2 separate regions of the Homo sapiens genome follow, and region 1 is linked to region 2. Evidence: fine-mapped expression QTL. A gene starts in region 2. The other region holds a variant in brackets. All regions are shown on one strand. Distances are from middle to middle.

Region 1 (8,332 bases), 48 kb after region 2:
ATTGCAACCCCTGCTTTGTTTTTTGTTTTCCATTTGCTTGGTAGATCTTCCTCCATCCCTTTATTTTGAGCCTATATGTGTCTCTGCACGTGAGATGGGTCTCCTGAATACAGCAGCACACTGATGGGTCTTGAGTCTTTATCCAATTTGCCAGTCTGTGTCTTTTAATTGGGGCATTTAGCCCATTTACATTTAAGGTTAATATTGTTATGTGTGAATTTGATCCTGTCATTATGATGTTAGCTGGTTATTTTGCTCGTTAGTTGATGCAGTTTCTTCCTAGCATCGATGGACTTTATAATTTGGCATGTTTTTGCAGTGGCTGATACCAGTTGTTTCTTTCCATGTTTAGTGATTCCTTCAGGAGCTCTTGTAAGGCAGGCCTGGTGGTGACAAAAATCTCTCAGCATTTGCTTGTCTGTAAAGGACTTTATTTCTCCTTCACTTATGAAGCTTAGTCTGGATATGAAATTCTGGGTTGAAAATTCTTTTCTTTAAGAATGTTGAGGCCGGGCGCGGTGGCTCACGCTTGTAATCCCAGCACTTTGGGAGGCCGAGGCGGGCGGATCACGAGGTCAGGAGATCGAGACCATCCTGGCTAACACGGTGAAACCCCGTCTCTACTAAAAATACAAAAAAAATTAGCCGGGCGTGATGGTGGGCGCCTGTAGTCCCAGCTACTCGGGAGGCTGAGGCAGGAGAATGGCGTGAACCCTGGAGGCGGAGCTTGCAGTGAGCCGAGATTGCGCCACTGCACTCCTGCCTGGGCCACAGAGCGAGACTCCGTCTCAAAAAAAAAAAAAAAAAAAAAAAAAGAATGTTGAATATTGGCCCCCACTCTCTTCTGCCTTGTAGAGTTTCTGCTGAGAGATCTGCTGTTAGTCTGATGAGTTTCTCTTTGTGGGTAACCCAATCTTTCTGTCTGGCTGCCCTTAACATTTTTTCCTTCATTTCAACCTTGGTGAATCTGACAATTATGTGTCTTGGGGTTGCTCTTCTAGAGGAGTATCTTTGTGGCATTCTCTGTATTTCCTGAATTTGAATGTTGGCCTGCTTTGCTAGGTTGGGGAAGTTCTCCTGGATAATATCCTGAAGAATGTTTTTCAACTTGGTTCCATTCTCCCCATCCCAGGTACACCAATCAGATGTAGATTTGGTCTTTTCACATAGTCCCGTATTTCTTGGAGGCTTTGTTCGTTTCTTTCTACTCTTTTTTTCTCTAAACTTCTCACTTCATTTCATTCATTTGATTTTCAATCACTGATACCCCTTCTTCCACTTGATCGAATTGGCTACTGAAGCTTGTGCATGTGTCACGTAGTTCTCGTGCCATAGTTTTCAGCTCCATCAGGTCATTTAAGGTCTTCTCTATGCTGTTTATTCTAGTTAGCCATTCGTCTAATCTTTTTTCAAGGTTTGTAGCTTCTTTGCGATGGGTTCGAACATCCTCCTTTAGCTTGGAGAAGTTTGTTATTACCGATCTTCTGAAGTGTACTTCTGTCAACTTGTCAAAGTCATTCTCCATCCAGCTTTGTTCCATTGCTGGCGAGAAGCTGCATTCCTTTGGAGGAGAAGAGGTGCTCTGATTTTTAGAATTTTCAGCTTTTCTGCTCTGGTTTCTCGCCATCTTTATGGTTTTATCTACCTTTGGTCTTCGATGATGGTGACCTACAGATGGGGTTTTGGTGTGGATGTCCTTTTTGTTGATGTTGATGCTATTCCTTTCTGTTTGTTAGTTTCCCTTCTAACAGTCAGGACCCTCAGCTGCAGGTCTGTTGGAGTTTGCTGGAGGTCCACTCCAGTGGAGGCTGCAGAACAGCAAATGTTGCTGCCTGATCCTTCCTCTGGAAGCTTCATCTCAGAGGGGCACCTGGTTGTATGAGGTGTCAGTCAGCCCCTACTGGGAGGTGTCTCCCAGTTAGGCTACTCAGGGGTCAGGGACCCACTTGAGGAGGCAGTCTGTCCATTCTCAGATCTCAAACTCTGTGCTAGGAGAACCACTGGTCTCTTCAAAGCTGTCAGACAGGGACATTTATGTCTCCAGAAGTTTCTGCTGCCTTTTGTTCAGCTATGCCCTGCCCCCAGAGGTGGAGTCTACAGAGGCAGGTGGGCCTTGTTGAGCTGCGGTAGGCTCCACCCAGTTCAAGCTTCCTGGCTTTGTTTACCTAGTCAAGCCTCAGCAATGGCGGACGCCCCTCCCCCAGCCTTGCTGCCACCTTGCAGTTCGATCTTGGCCTGCTTTACTAGCAGTGAGCAAGGCTCCATGGGTGTGGGACCCTCCAAGCCAGGCACGGGATATAATTTCCTGGTGTGCTGTTTGCTAAGACCGTTGGAAAAGCACACTATTAGGGCAGGAGTGTCCCAATTTTCCAGGTACTGTCTGTCACAGCTTCCCTTGGCTAGGAAAGGGAATTCCCCAATCCTTTGCACTTGCCAGGTGAGGTGATGCCCCGCCCTTCTTCAGCTCACACTCCATGGGCTGCACCCAGTGTCCAACAAGTCCCAGTGAGATGAACCTGGTAACTCAGTTGGAAATGCAGAAATCACCCATCTTCTATGTCGCTCACACTGGGAGCTGTAGACTGGAGCTGTTCCTATTCGGCCATCTTGGAACAGAGACAGAGAAATTGGAATTCTTATACTGTATTGGTACCTTGCCTTAGATTTGTAAAATGGTGAGGCTGCCATGGAAGAGTTTAACTCAACAAGTACCCAGCAATTCCAGTTTTGGGTATATAACCCCCCACACCAAATTGATAACTGGTGTTCAAAGAGAAACTTGCTCATGAACATTGATAGCAGCTTTATTTTCAATAGGCAGAAGGTAGAATCAACACATACGCCCATCAGCTGAAGATGATAGCAGCTTTATTTTCAACAGGCAGAAGGTAGAATCAACCCATACGCCCATCAGCTGAAAAACGGGTGAGCAAAATGTGGTGTATACAGACAATGGAGTGTTATTTAGCCACAAAAAGGAAGGAGGCACTGACACACACTACACATACATGAAACTTGAAAACATACTAAGTGAGAGAAGGCAGGCATGAAAGGCCACATATTACACAGTTCCACTTACATATCCAGAGTAGGCAAGCCCAGAGACAGGTGGCAGATTAGGGACTGCCAGAGGCTGGGGGCCAGGGGATGGGGAGAGACTTCTAGTGGGGACAGGGCTTCCCACTGGGGTGATGGCGTTAGGCAGAAGTGATTCACAATATTGTGAATGCACTAAATGTCACTAGTGGTAAGTTGTATGTTACGTACATAAAATAAAATAATAACAAAATTAGGAGGCTGATAAAGACCATATATCTGGAGAATCTGGCAGAATGAACTGAAAAACAAACTCAAACAATGAGAGAATTAGTGAGGCAGTCTGGTGTGAAATTAAAAGACACGATCCAAGTGCTTTCATTAAGCAAATAACAAGCTAGAAGCTACAAACAAAGGGAAAGATCACATTTGTAAAAGCAAAAAAAAAGAGCTGAGGAACAGCTCATTCAGGATGTACATCCTCTCTGTCACCTCCATCCATGGCTCAGTTCCGTCGTGCACTGCAGGCTGGTTCCTAAGATGGGGCCCAGGCCCTCGAGGCCCAGGTGCTCTGATGGGCTTGGCCTACCAGAAGCACCGCTAGTGGGAAGAAGAGTTCGGCCCTGTCTTCCCGGCCCTGTCTTCCTGGCTCCCTCTACAGAGACGGCTCCTCCTCTAGGCCTCCTGGAGTGTCTGCTGCGGATGGAGGTACTTTGAGACAGCAGAGTTTTAAGGATGCCCCTGCACCTGGAGCTGCTCCTATGATTGTGTAAAGTTACCTGGCAGGGGCTTCATCTCATCACATATTTGGTGAAGCAGGGAGCTTTCCCCAGCTGGTGCAAAGGGCAGTCAGACAGATTCAGGGCATGCAAAGGACTGGGCTCACTGCCGTCACTGGCTTTAAAGATGGATGTGGCCCTGGGAGAAGAATGCAGGTGCCCTGAGGAGCTGAGAGTGGCCCCAGGTGACAGTCAGTGAGGAAACAAGAGTTTCAGTCCCACGGCTGCAAAGAATCAAATGCTGTCAATGACCTGAAGGTGCCCTGGAGCCCTTAGTTCTGTTCCTGCTGTGGCTGCACCTCTCCCTTTCATCCAACAAAGATGCCCCAGATGAACTCTCACTCAGAGAGCAAGGCACTGAGAGCTGCGCACTGTTCCATTCCCAAAGCATTTATGTAAGTTATTAAAGGGAAGAGAATAAAAGCCTGAGATGGTCTTCAAAATGTTATATCTTGCTCTGAGCGATGAAAAATTATGCATGCTTTCTCCTATGATATGCATCTGTTAGAGAGAGGAGAGCTCTCTGAAGGCCAAGTGAGGCACTACCTCTGGATGTGGGGCACCGAGTCACTGTGCACATTTTATTATGTGTCTGTCTGTTCCTGTGCTCAGGGGACAGGAGTGAATAATGCACAGGCCCTTCAATGAATCCACCGTTGTGTGTGTGGACGTGGCCAAGGAACTGTGATGGAACACACTCATGAAGAACAAAGCCGTGGAGGTCACAGCAGCAGGCAGCCAGGTCTGGAGGAGATGCATGGGAGCCAGACATCCGCATGCAAGCGAGGAGGGCGCCCCCAGGAGTTCACAATTTATTTGTCAGCATGAAAAATCCCATCTGGAAAGGCAGTGACACAGAGCAGTAACTAACAAGGACAAAAAAGGG[TC/T]AAATAAGGAAAAAAGCCAAATGTATCTTTTCTGAAATCTCTCCCAAAATCTTGAGAGGAGGCTACATTTGTGGTACATAATAACAGATTATCTCTCTTTCTCCTCCTCCTCTTTCTGTCTCTCTGTCTCTCTCACACAGGCTACTCCCGAGGCTCTGCACCCAGCTGCTCCCCTCAGCACGTAGCCCTGAAGCCCAGTCAGCTTCTCCGATGCTGTTAGCTTCTCTCCTCTGCTCAGTACGTTTTATCTCCACCAGCGCAGCAGGGCCTGACCCATTGCAGTGTTGGGAACTTTAAGGTTTCAGGTTCATATCTGGTGCCAAAATTCACAGGATGAGGTTGTCTTTAAAGTCTTTCCTGGCTCTCATATTTTATGAGTCAGTTCTACGATTTTGGAGACAGGAGATATCCCGAACGAAAGCAGAGAGAACAAGGGTTGTAATCTATCTGGGTTTGAGAGGGAGAAGAGGAAAGAGTACTGCAGAGGAGGATAAAAGAACATAAGCCAGGAGCGCGCGGCGGTGCCTGTGGTCCCAGCTACCCTGGCGGCTGAGGCAGTAGTCAGCAGAGATCACGCAACTGCACTCCAGCCCGGGCAGCAGACCAAGACCCTGTCTCAAAAAGTAAATAAATAAAAAGGAACACATTGGAGGCTGGAATGTCCTGGGCACCTTGACTCTAGACCTGCCAGAGCACTGTGATAGGAGGGCAGTGAGGGGAGCGCTGTGAGGGGGGAGCTCTGTGAGGGGAGCGCTGTGAGGGAACGCGGGGAGGGATGTGAGGGAGCGCTGCGCCAGAGCGCTGTGAGGGGAGCACTGTGAGGGGAGGGATGTGAGGGGGGCGCTGTGAGGGGAGCTCTGTGAAGGGAGCGCTATGCCAGAGCGCTGTGAGGGGAGCACTGTGAGGGGAGGGATGTGAGGGGAGCTCTGTGAGGGGAGGGATGTGAAGGGGGCGCTGTGAGGGGAGCTCTGTGAGGGGAGGGATGTGAGGGGGGGCCCTGTGAAGGGAGGGATGTGAACAAGTGCTGTGAGGGGAGCGCCGTGAGCGGAGACATGTGGGGGGAGCGCCCTGACGGGAAGGATGTGAGGGGGGCCCAGTGAGGGGAGGGATGTGAGGGGAGCGCCATGAGTGGAAGGATGTGAGGGGAGTGCCGTGAGCAGAAGGAAGTGAGGGGGCACTGTGAGGGGAGAGATGTGAGGGGAGCGCCCTGAGGGGAGGGATGTGAGAGGGGCGCTGTGAGGGGAGCGCCACGAGGGGAAGGATGTGAGAGGAGTGCCATGAGCAGAAGGATGTGAAGGGGCGCTGTGAGGGGAGAGATGTGAGGGGAGCCCCTGAGAGGAGGGATGTGAGAGGGGCACTATGAGGGGAGGGATGTGAGGGGAGCGCTGTGAGGGGAGCGTCGTGAGGGGAGCGCCGTGAGGGGAGCGCCGTGAGGGGAAGGATGTGAGGGGAGTGCCGTGAGCAGAAGGATGTGAGGGGGTCGCTGTGAGGGGAGAGATGTGAGTGGAGCGCCGTGAGGGGAGAGATGTGAGGGGAGCACTGTGCCAGAGTGCTGTGACGGGAGCACTGTGAGGGGACTGTTGTGAGGGGAGCACCGTGAGGAGAGGGATGTGAGGGGGGCGCTGTGAGGAAAGGGATGTGAGCAAACATTGTGAGGGGAGCACCGTGAGGGGAGAGATGTGAAGGGAGCGCCCTGAGGGGAGGGATGTGAAGGGGGCGCTGTGAGGGGAGGGATGTGAGTGAGTACTGTGAGGAGAGCTCAGTGAGGGGACGTTTTAAGCACAACTCCTTGGTTTCACCTTCATCATTCTCTCCCTTCTTCCTCCACACAGGCCTGGCACTGGCATGGGTTGCTGAGAAGGCCCCTGAAGCAGCATTTCATCACCACCATGGCCTCCAAGAGAGCGGTGCCTCCTATGAGCCCTAGAGTGCAGGTTCTCCAAGGGCCACTGAGGCCCTGAGAACCTTCCTCTGCTCACCGTCAAGGTCAGCCGGGACCTCGGAAACTGGTGTTCCTCACTCTCCCTCTCATGTAAACACCTCTGGCTGACCTGGTCGTGGGAGCAGGCTCGGACCTGTGAGGCCAGGCAAGGGTCCCTGGTGAGAAGGGCCTGTTCACCTCCCCTGCCTCCTGCCAGTCACTGTGGTTCTCTCCGGGGTCATCATGGAAGTCTCCTTCTTGGTTCTTCGTCAGCCAAGAGTGACAGGAACAAGAACAACAAGAGGACCTCGTGCAAGGAGCTCCTGATGCCTTCCCCAGTCCATTTGTCCACCCCTTGGGTGGCTCAGACTCAAGCTGCTCTTCTCTCTACGTCTGCTCCTAAACACTGGGGGGTCATCACTCAAGGATAAGGGCTTTTTTTTTTTTTAACCAACAATATCTTTGCTCTAAAGCAAAGCAGGGCTAAGGATGGAGAGACAGAGACCTCCCATCTTTGCTCCTTCACCTGTCAATCAAAAGGGCAATAAAGTGATTGAAAAGGCATAAAAACAAAGCTCAGAGAGGAGAAGACAGGAAGACTCGGCCAGGAGGGAGGACTGAGCAATCTCAGGTAAAGCAGGAACAGGGAAGCCCAGCTACCACCCAGGGGATCTGCGCCAGACTCAGGAAACCTCAGAAGTCAGGGGTGTCAAGGAGCCCGGGTGATTGTGAGGCACCTCAGGCATGCAGGGGCAGCTGGGCAGTGAGGGTGGAGGACACCTTGCTGAGAGGGGTGAGTGGAGCCCCCCTGTGGAGAGTGGGATACCTCACCCACCTTCCAAGCTCCCAGAATGTCAAAGGCCAGGCTCATACCCCCAGGCAGGAGGTCAAAGAATTAAAGGACCTCTCTCTTGGCTGTGGAGGGAAAATCTACAAATGCAGTCTTTGGACTTAGGAGTCCCCAGTGGAAGAACTGGGCCATCTCCACTGCTGTGAGGTGAGGGCCACTCGTAAGCAAGCCCCCATACGCCTCCTACAGCTGTTGGGCCTTGGCTGCAGAGCTGTTGGGCACTTGGCTGCAGAGCTGTTATCAGCCAGGGTCCCAGCAGGAAATCCATGACACGCTCAAGCTTGGTAAATCGAGAAAAGTTTAATTAAGGAACTGCTATTGAAAAGCAATAATCAAAAAAGAACTAATGGCAAACGTGCAGGCAGTCTTGGAATACCATGGGAGAGCTGCAGTGCCCTGCCACCAGCACAAACTCCAGTCTTGAAGGACATGCCTGAGCAGTTAGTGGAACCCAGGAAGGCCACAGGACAGCAGGGATGCCCAGCAAGGCCTTCAGGAGAGGGATGCAGATGACTGGAGGAAACCTCTATGGGAAAGAGCCCGGCTGCATCTCCTCCCCACACACCATCCACTCCCATTGGAAGCACATGTGGCTGCTTCCTGCATGTGAGTGGGTTGGGGTGGGGGGTCTGTGTGGAGGATGCAGGCCAGAGACCCAGGGAGACCCTAACATGACACAGACCCAGAGAGAAACCTGGAGGAAGCCGAGTGGATGGAGGGAGTAGGACGCAGACAAACCTATGATATTCGCAGAGAAACAGGGTGGCCGTGAAATAAGAGCAGACACCGCAAAACTACACACAGAATCTTTCAATTAAAAGTAGAATAGACATAAATAATTTAATAGAAATGTTGAATA
Region 2 (8,332 bases):
TCTACACTGTCCATGTCAGACCCATCTAAACCATCCATGTTGAACAGATCTCTGCACTTCTTTTCTCTACTATTTGCATAAAACTTTGAGGGCAGAGGTTAGAAGACGGCTCAGCAACCTTTATATTCACCGTAAGAGGCCCAATGAAATAAATTTTGTCACAGAAATTTAATATCATTTAGTATCCCACAGCCTTAAAATGGATTTTTTCCAACTAGCAGTACTGAAACGGGAAGCACTCCATGAGACACATATTATGAAGGGAACTCAAGGTACAGAAAAATGTTAACAGTGAGACAGCAAATCTTTGTTTCTGAACACACACCTATGTATCTGCATAAATGTTTCATGGACAGATATACAAAAGAGCTTAACAATGTTTCCCATTAGAAACTTTGAAGAAGTTAAGACCTGACAATCTCAACAAATATTTTACCATATGCATTAGCAGTTTTTCTTCAAGTAACATTAGATTCATGAAAACTTGCGTCTTTCTGTTGGAGGATTGCAATGAATGATTCTCCTTACAAACCTTGCGGTTATATGTTAATACAAAATAGATGTGTATTTATGACCAAAAAAAAGGGCCCATAGCCTAAAAAGATTCTCAGAGAAGTTTATTTTCTAAAATGTTAAAATTATTTTAGTAATAGTTAAGTGTCCCATAAATCTAAGTAATTTTGAATGCTTCACATTTCAAATTTATTGGAACCTAATATTATCTACTTTTTCACGTAAAAAAAAAAAAAAAAAAAAAGGTGTGTAACCTGATGTTCAAGAAAGGCAACAGGACGGATATGATTGCAAACTGAATGCCTTTCTAGAATCAAGCAGAATGTGCTCTCAACCTGCACGTTTAACATCACACTGACTGACAGATTTGGAGGGTAGGACAAAAGACCAAGAATGAAACAGAATTGAGAACTTCTAACATGACAGTGAATTTAACAGATTCATTAAATCCTATTTGCATATTAATTCCTACTTCTCTCAACTTTAAAATTTTGTAGGCAGAAGTTTTATGACTCTTCATGAATTTCAAAATTTAATTCTAATTTAATTCTAACATCTTAATTCTAAGTTAGCTTTGCAATAAAGATCAGTCCTCTTGAAGAAATTAACTAAATTTAGAATAAGACTAATCTGTCATAATTAACACAAATTTTCTCTATTTTTATATAGCAATGTTTTTCAACACAAACTTTGGATAACCTTAATAAAGTAACATAAAAACCACAGTCAAAATTCACAACTAGCACATAACTGGGAAAACCTTGGGTACAGTGATGGCTTTTTCAATATAATACCAAAGGCACATCCATCAAAGAAATAATTCATAGTGAAGCTTCATTAAAATTAAAAACTTCTGCTCTGAAAAAGACACTGTCAAGAGAATGTGAAGCCACAGATTGGGAGAAAATCTTTATAGAACACATACATATAAAGAACTAGTATCCAAAACATACAAAGAACTCTTAAAACTCAACAATGAGAAATCAAACCACCTAATTAAAAAATGCGGAGAAAGATCTAAACAGACACCTCACCAAAAAAGGGACACAGATGACAAGTATGCGTCTGAAAAGATGCTCATGTCATTTATCATCAGGGAATCGCAATTCAAGACAAAGAGAAACCACCACACACCTACTAGGATGGACAAAGTCTACATACTGACAGCACCAAATGCTGGCAAGGAGGTGGAGCAAAAGGAAATCTCATTCCTTGTCCATGGGAGTGCAAACTGGTGCAGCCACTTTGGAAGACGGTTTGGCGGTTTCTTATAAAACTAAACACTCTCACCATGCAATCCAGCAATCAGGCTCCTAGGTATTTACCCAAGTTGGAAACTTAAATTCACACAAAAACCTGCACCTGATGTTTACAGCTGGTCTATGAATAAACTGATGTTTATTCATAATTGCCAAAACGTGAAAGCAACCAACATGCCCTCCAGAGGGTGAAGGGATAAACTGTGGTACACCCAAACAGTGGAATACTATTCAGTGCTAAAAAGAAACGAGCTACAAGCCGTGAAAAGAAATGCAGGAACCTTAAATGCATCTTTCTAAGTGAGAGAAACCTACCTGAAAAAGCTACACACTGTGAATGCAACCAAATGACATTCTGGAAAACTATGGCGACAGTACAAAGATCAATGTTTGCCAGGGGTTCCGGGGAGGGAGGGTGCACAGAGGGTCTCTAAGGCAGCAAAACTCCTGTGTGTGACACTACAATGGTGGGCAAACGTCAGTACACATTTGTCCAAACCACAGAATGCACAACGAGTGAGCCCTCCCAGGTGAGGACCATGAGCCCGTGTAGGTCCACAGATTGTAACAAACGCACCATTCTGTGGGGGTGATGATAGTGGGGGGCTGGGGATCCATGAGAACTCTCTGTACTTTCTCCTCAAATTTGCTGGGCACCTAAAACTGGATACCTGAAAAATAGAGTCTATTAAAGTTTTTTCCCCCCAAAACCAACACACACTTTAGATGTACAGATAACAGGCCAGGCGCGGTGGCTCACGCCTGTAATCCCAGCACTTCAGAAGGCCGAGGAGGGCAGATCACCTGAGATCATGAGTTCGAGACCAGCCTGACCAACATGGACAACTCTGTCTCTACTAAAAATACAAAATTAGCCAGGCGTGGTGACACATGCTCGTAATCCCAGCTACTCAAGAGGCTGAGGCAGGAGAATCACTTGAACCCGGGAGGGTGCAGTGAGCTGAGATCACGCCACTGCACCCCACCCTGGGCGACAAGAGCGAAACTTCATCTCAAAAAAAAAAAAAAAAAAGTATAGATGACAATTGTGTAAAGGGAAAATCAGAAAAGGAGCTTTAACGAAGGCACTGCCAGCAATTGAATCTAGCTGGAGGATACGAGGAAGAATCTCCTATTCTTCTACTTTTCCGCATGTTAGAAATTTTTCAAAGTAAGAACTTAAGGCCAGGCGTGGTGACTCACGCCTGTGATCCTAGTACCTTGGGAGGCTGAGGCGGGCGGATCACGTGAGCCCAGGAGTTTCAGATCTGCCTGGACAACATAGCAAGACCCCATTTCCACAAAAACGGTTTTTTAAAATTAGCCAGGTGAGGTGGTGCGCACTTGTAGTCCCAGCTACTACAGAGGCTGAGAGAGGAGAATAGCTTGAGCCCAGGCAGGTTGAGGCCGTAGTGAGCCGAGATTGCGCCACTGCACTCCAGCCTAGTAAACGGGGCAAGACCCTGTCTCAAAATAAAAAATAAAAACTTAAGAAAAAAAAGTGGGTTTCAGGATTCATTAGGAAAAATGGGAGAACATAGGAAGACTCAGTTTAAAATTCTCAAGGCTCTATCCAGAAACAATAATATGGCTCATCTTTGACCAATATTAGTTATTTGTAGCTTCTGCAGTTAACTCTGTAGCCACATATAAATTCTCATCATTACATTCAAGAAGAGAGCTGTTTAGAGTAACTATAACATTCTGAAATTAAAAAAAAAAAAGGCACGTAAGCACTAACGCTACCTAAAAGAAATTTCTCAGACAAGTTCAGATAGTAACCATATTTAAGCGCTTAACATAATCGGCTCCATTTTCCATGAGTTAGGAATGGAATTTAACGTTCATAGAAAATCTCTATCAAGAAGAAACAACTCCAGACCCTAAGAGAAACTCTTCTGCTCAGAAACTATTTCCAAGTCCTCGGAAGACAGGTACAAATCCTTATATTCCATTCGGCCTTAACAGCATCAGGAGGAAGTTGCCACACGTTTAACAGAAAGAGATATTTTATGATCCAGAATGCTGGATTTCTGACCTAAATTTCATTGTACATGAAAAAGAGCACTGCAATGGAAAAAGGGAGGGGGGGGGAGGGGGTGGGGGAGGGCACGTCTAAGGCACACAGGGCCCACCTGGGAGCCCTTTCAATTACAAAATTCTAGACATACCAAACATATCTCTACACTCGTCAGGTAAAGGCCTTTCAGTTTTCAGTACAAAGGACTTCTGCCGGCTTCCTTCAGAAAAATCAAGAATTTAAGAAAATACTTGTTATGCAAACAAACATTTAGCCCACTTAACATTGAGCTACGGTCGTCCAAAGCTGCTTAGTGTCCGCGAGGAGGCCGTCCGGATGCGCGATGATTCAGGCCTTCTCCGCCAGCTCCACCCGGGACGCGAGCACCCGGCGTGGACCTCTGCGTCCCGGGCCCACGACGCCCGCGCCGCGGGGTGCGCGCACTGCGTCCCCGCTCTCCTGGGACTGCGCCCCGAGTAACACGTGCAGGGGGCACTGGGTCCCCTGCAAGCGGCGAGAACGCCGGCAGCCCTGGCCAGTTAAGCGGGGAGTGGGTCCACGCGGACCACAGCGGCAACTCAGCCCAGGACGAGCCTCGGGTCAAGTTCTCCGACTCCGCACTCGGGCACCTAGCGGGCCGCGCCCCGGAGCTACGCGGCCCCAACCTCACCTGCCCGCCCAAACTGTGCCCCCAACTACCCGCACCTCCACCTGCGCGCCGCCCACCCTCGCCCTCCACCTGCGCGCCCCCGGCCTACTAGCACTCCCCACCTGCGCACCCCCTCACCTGCGCCTGGGCGGCGGCGGCGGCGGCCGGTGGCGGCCCCCCACGCAGGCCGTCCTCCTCCTCGGGGGGCTCGTCCAGCAGCACTCGGCCCCGGCCCAGCTTCCACATGGTCAGGCGGGCTCCGGCGTCCCTCCGTCCGTGCGTCGGGCTGTGGCTCCGCGTCCCTCCCGGCCGCCGGACGCTCTGCCTGCGGCTCCTGCGGGACGCGGGCCCAGTGGGCCGGGCGGGGCTAGGCGGGGGCGGGGCACCCCCAGAACTAGGCCCGCCCCCTCCCCACCAGGCCCGCCCCAAACCCTCCCCAGGACCCGGCCCGCCCCCAAACCATCCCCAGAACCAGGCCCGCTCCAAGCCCTCCTCAGGACCAGGCCCGCCCCAAACCCTTCCGAAGACCAGACCCGCCCCCAAACCTTCCCCAGGACCAGACCCACCCCCAAATTCGACGGGGCTCCGAATCCCATCCCCCACAGAAAGGTCAACCCCGGCCCCCTCCTCCCAGTGTGGTCCCCGCCACCGCCCCGGCGAGACCCTCGCCCTTCACTGTTCTACTGAACGACGTCCTCACCCCAGGCTACCCCGTCACCTGGTCCCCCCACCTTGACCCCCACCTACCCGCCCCTAGCTGCTTCCTCACCCGGAAACGCCCCCATCCTGAGCCCCCACCGAGCCCCTAGCCCTGCCCTATCCCCGGTTCCCTGGGTCCTCCTCTACCCCCGAGCCCCCACCCGGCCCCCGCAAATTCCCCTCTCCCGGTTCTCTCCTTCTCCCCCGCCGACCCCCACTTACTCCCGGACTGCCCCCTCCCCCCACCCTTTCCCAGACCCTGGCCGGAGGGCGTGGCCACGTCCGCTCGGGTCACCAAGGCAACGGCCGGGAGCGCAGTGCGCATGCGCGCCGCTGGCGCTCAGGCCGCGGCAAGGCTGAGGGGAAGGTGGAGGGGGCACAGTCCGCGGAGCGGCGCCTGTACCCCAGCGCTTCAGGGCATCCCTCGGGGCCTGGGCGCCGGGCATCCGGGACTCATCCCCTCCGGCGCCCGAGGTCGCGGGATAGTGGGGGCGCCGGGAGGAAGCCTCGCCCAGCCCTGGTGGGCGGTGGGGCCGCTGGGGCCTGGGGCGCCGCGGGCTCGGCCCGGACTGACGGCGGTGGGGGGCGGGGATGGGGCCGTGGTGCCGGGCCGCGCAGAACCCTTGGGACCCCCGCGGCGCCCAGGTTGGGGCTCAGGGCCCGGAGAACGTTTTCCCGCGTGGCTATGGCTTTGTCAGAATCAGGAGCGGGAGAGGCGCCCACAGATTCCTGAGGGCAGAACCGCCTGGTTCCCAGGCCGAAAGGAGCCGGCGAGGCGACCCCCGATCCCGGGACGGAGCCGCGGGAACGGGGGATTCTAGGCGTCCGCTCCCGCCCAGCAGGTTAATTTTTCCCGCGACGCGCTTCGTATCGCTTCTTACACCAAATATGTATTCATGTGTTCAGTCATGTAAAAGCGCATTTTGAAGGAGGATCCAGAACTATGAGCTCCCTTGAAAACTGCAAGCTTCGTAACTTTACGACTCTTAAAAAAATGAAATGTACATTTTGAGTTTCCCAGAAGTGATGAGCAGCAAAGCTTTTAAGATGAAAGGGGCTCTGAACTGCCTTTGGGAGATGCCGGCCAGGATCCCGGAGAACCGAGGGGGTGGCGCCCGTGCCCAAGGCCTGGGGGGACCTGGGGCCCTGGCGCGGGACGCACAGGGAGGGCGGGGGCTGGGCCTGGCAGGAGCCCCCAGCCGAGTGGGAAGAGCCAGATAATAACCTAACGATACTAACCTAACTATACCGTCACCCAGAGAGGAGGGCAGCACCCCTCCCACATGCCTCCCTCCCCCGGTGACCGCTAAACCTACCGGCCGCAAACATCACGAAATAGAATTAAACACTGGCGCCTACTAAGGACCACTCCACCCAGTACAAACTAAATTTGAGAGTTCATCTTCACGCAAATAATAAGAATGTTAAAAATGTATATATGCTCCTTTTCAAACAAGGCCTAATAGGCCTGGCCTCCTGGGCTAGGGGGCTTAGAAAATTGCAAATGCAAGATGGCATGGTGTGGCTCCGGGGTGCTGTCAAAATAAGCACATTGCAAGCACAAACTGATGAAAGTCAAAAACTATCAAACAGAGGTTGCAAAACAAAGTCAGGATCCAAACACAGCCCATATAAAGACGCTACAAATAAAACACAGAAAACCAACTCAGAACACTTGGACAAATAACACAAATCCCCCTGGCTAATGCGAAGGAACACAGGGCTTATGCCCAGACAGCTGGCTTCCTCTCAGTCTAGCAACATCCACTCCATGAATTGTCATTAAACTGTAATCCCCTGCAAATCTATGACAATCTGGAAGAAGGTGAGCCTTGCTAAATAAAAAAGCTAACTTACTGAATATTTTAGACATTTAGCTTTCTTCTGAAGAAGAGCACAGCTAGTCAGGATATCTACAACCTAAAGGCCTGGCACAAATGAGAGGGAAGGGGGTTGGGTGGGAGAAGCCGGTGAAACGGCTGTTACGGAGCAGCAGGCATTTCTGGAATTTTGAGAAGAACTTTCCCGAGTACTATGAATTTGACTCAGTTCATTCATTAGCTCCTCTATGAGTTTTATATAATTAAGTCATGCTATTGTTAAGGTCCATAAGAGGCATACTTTACACAATCCAGTGTCATAAAAATACAATTGTTACCACTAAAAATCCATTTTGGGATCGAGAAAGTCATGGTTAAACAACCTTTTCATCTGCTGAGGCCTCAGTTGAAGGAAGCTATTCATTTTAAACTGAATTGCCCTTATTGGCTAATTTGGCCACTGAAAATTCACTGGTACAGGAACTCTAATTTTTTAGATGTAAAGATCAAGCGTGTCATCTCTCTCTGAATTCAAAATGCATAAGGCTCAATTTAGTGAGATTTTGCTCTGGCAGACTTAATTTTAAATAGGAGTGGGGTTTGGGGTGCCATATAGAACTTTCTAGCAACCAAAGCTGTTTAAAAACTACAAGTTTCTTATCCATGGAGGTGATTCGGCAGAGGCTGGATCTTAAGACAGTTGTACCCTCAGTCCTCTGACTTTTTTAAAAAATGGATACATAATATTTTACATATTTGGGGGTACATTTGATATATTGTTACAAGCACGGAATGTGTAATGATCAAGTTAGGATATTTGGGGTATATATCAACTTGGGTATTTTTCAATTCTATGTGTTGGTAATATTTCAAGTTTTCCTTTCTAGCTATTTTGGACTATACAATGCATTGTTACTAACTATAGCTACACTACTCTCCTATCAAACATTGCCTTCTAACTGCATGTTTGTACTCATTAACCAACCTGACTTTACTTCTCCCCCAACATACACACCTTCCCAGCATCTGGTAACTACCATTCTATTCTCTACCTCCAGGATATCAGGATTTTTTTTTAGCTCTCACATATGAGTGAGAACATGTGATATTTGTCTATGTCTGGCTTATTTCACTTAACATAATGATCTCCAGTTCCATCCATGTTGCTGCAAATGACAGGATATGATTCCTTTTTATGACCAAATACTATTCCATTCTGTATATGCACCACATTTTCTTCATCCATTCATCTGTTGATGGACACTTAGGTTGACTCCATATCTTTACTATTGTGATTAATGCTTCAATAAACATGGGTATGCAAATATCCCTTTGATATAACAATTTTCTTTCCTTTGGATAAATATCCAAT

What was found.
Region 1: its variant is fine-mapped to the expression of TDRP in whole blood (TOPMed, PIP above 0.99).

Annotation. Positions count from the first base shown.
Region 1 is chr8:587,581-595,912 of GRCh38, forward strand. No RefSeq gene overlaps it. Among named protein-coding and RNA genes, the nearest start is that of TDRP, 47 kb to the left of the region's middle. The variant TC/T (reference allele first, on the strand shown) is at 4,702.
Region 2 is chr8:540,071-548,402 of GRCh38, forward strand. It overlaps TDRP (testis development related protein), which reads right to left and starts at 4,764. Exons shown (of 3, transcript NM_001384899.1): 1 at 4,580-4,764. The coding sequence starts at 4,687. RefSeq lists an enhancer at 5,743-6,243.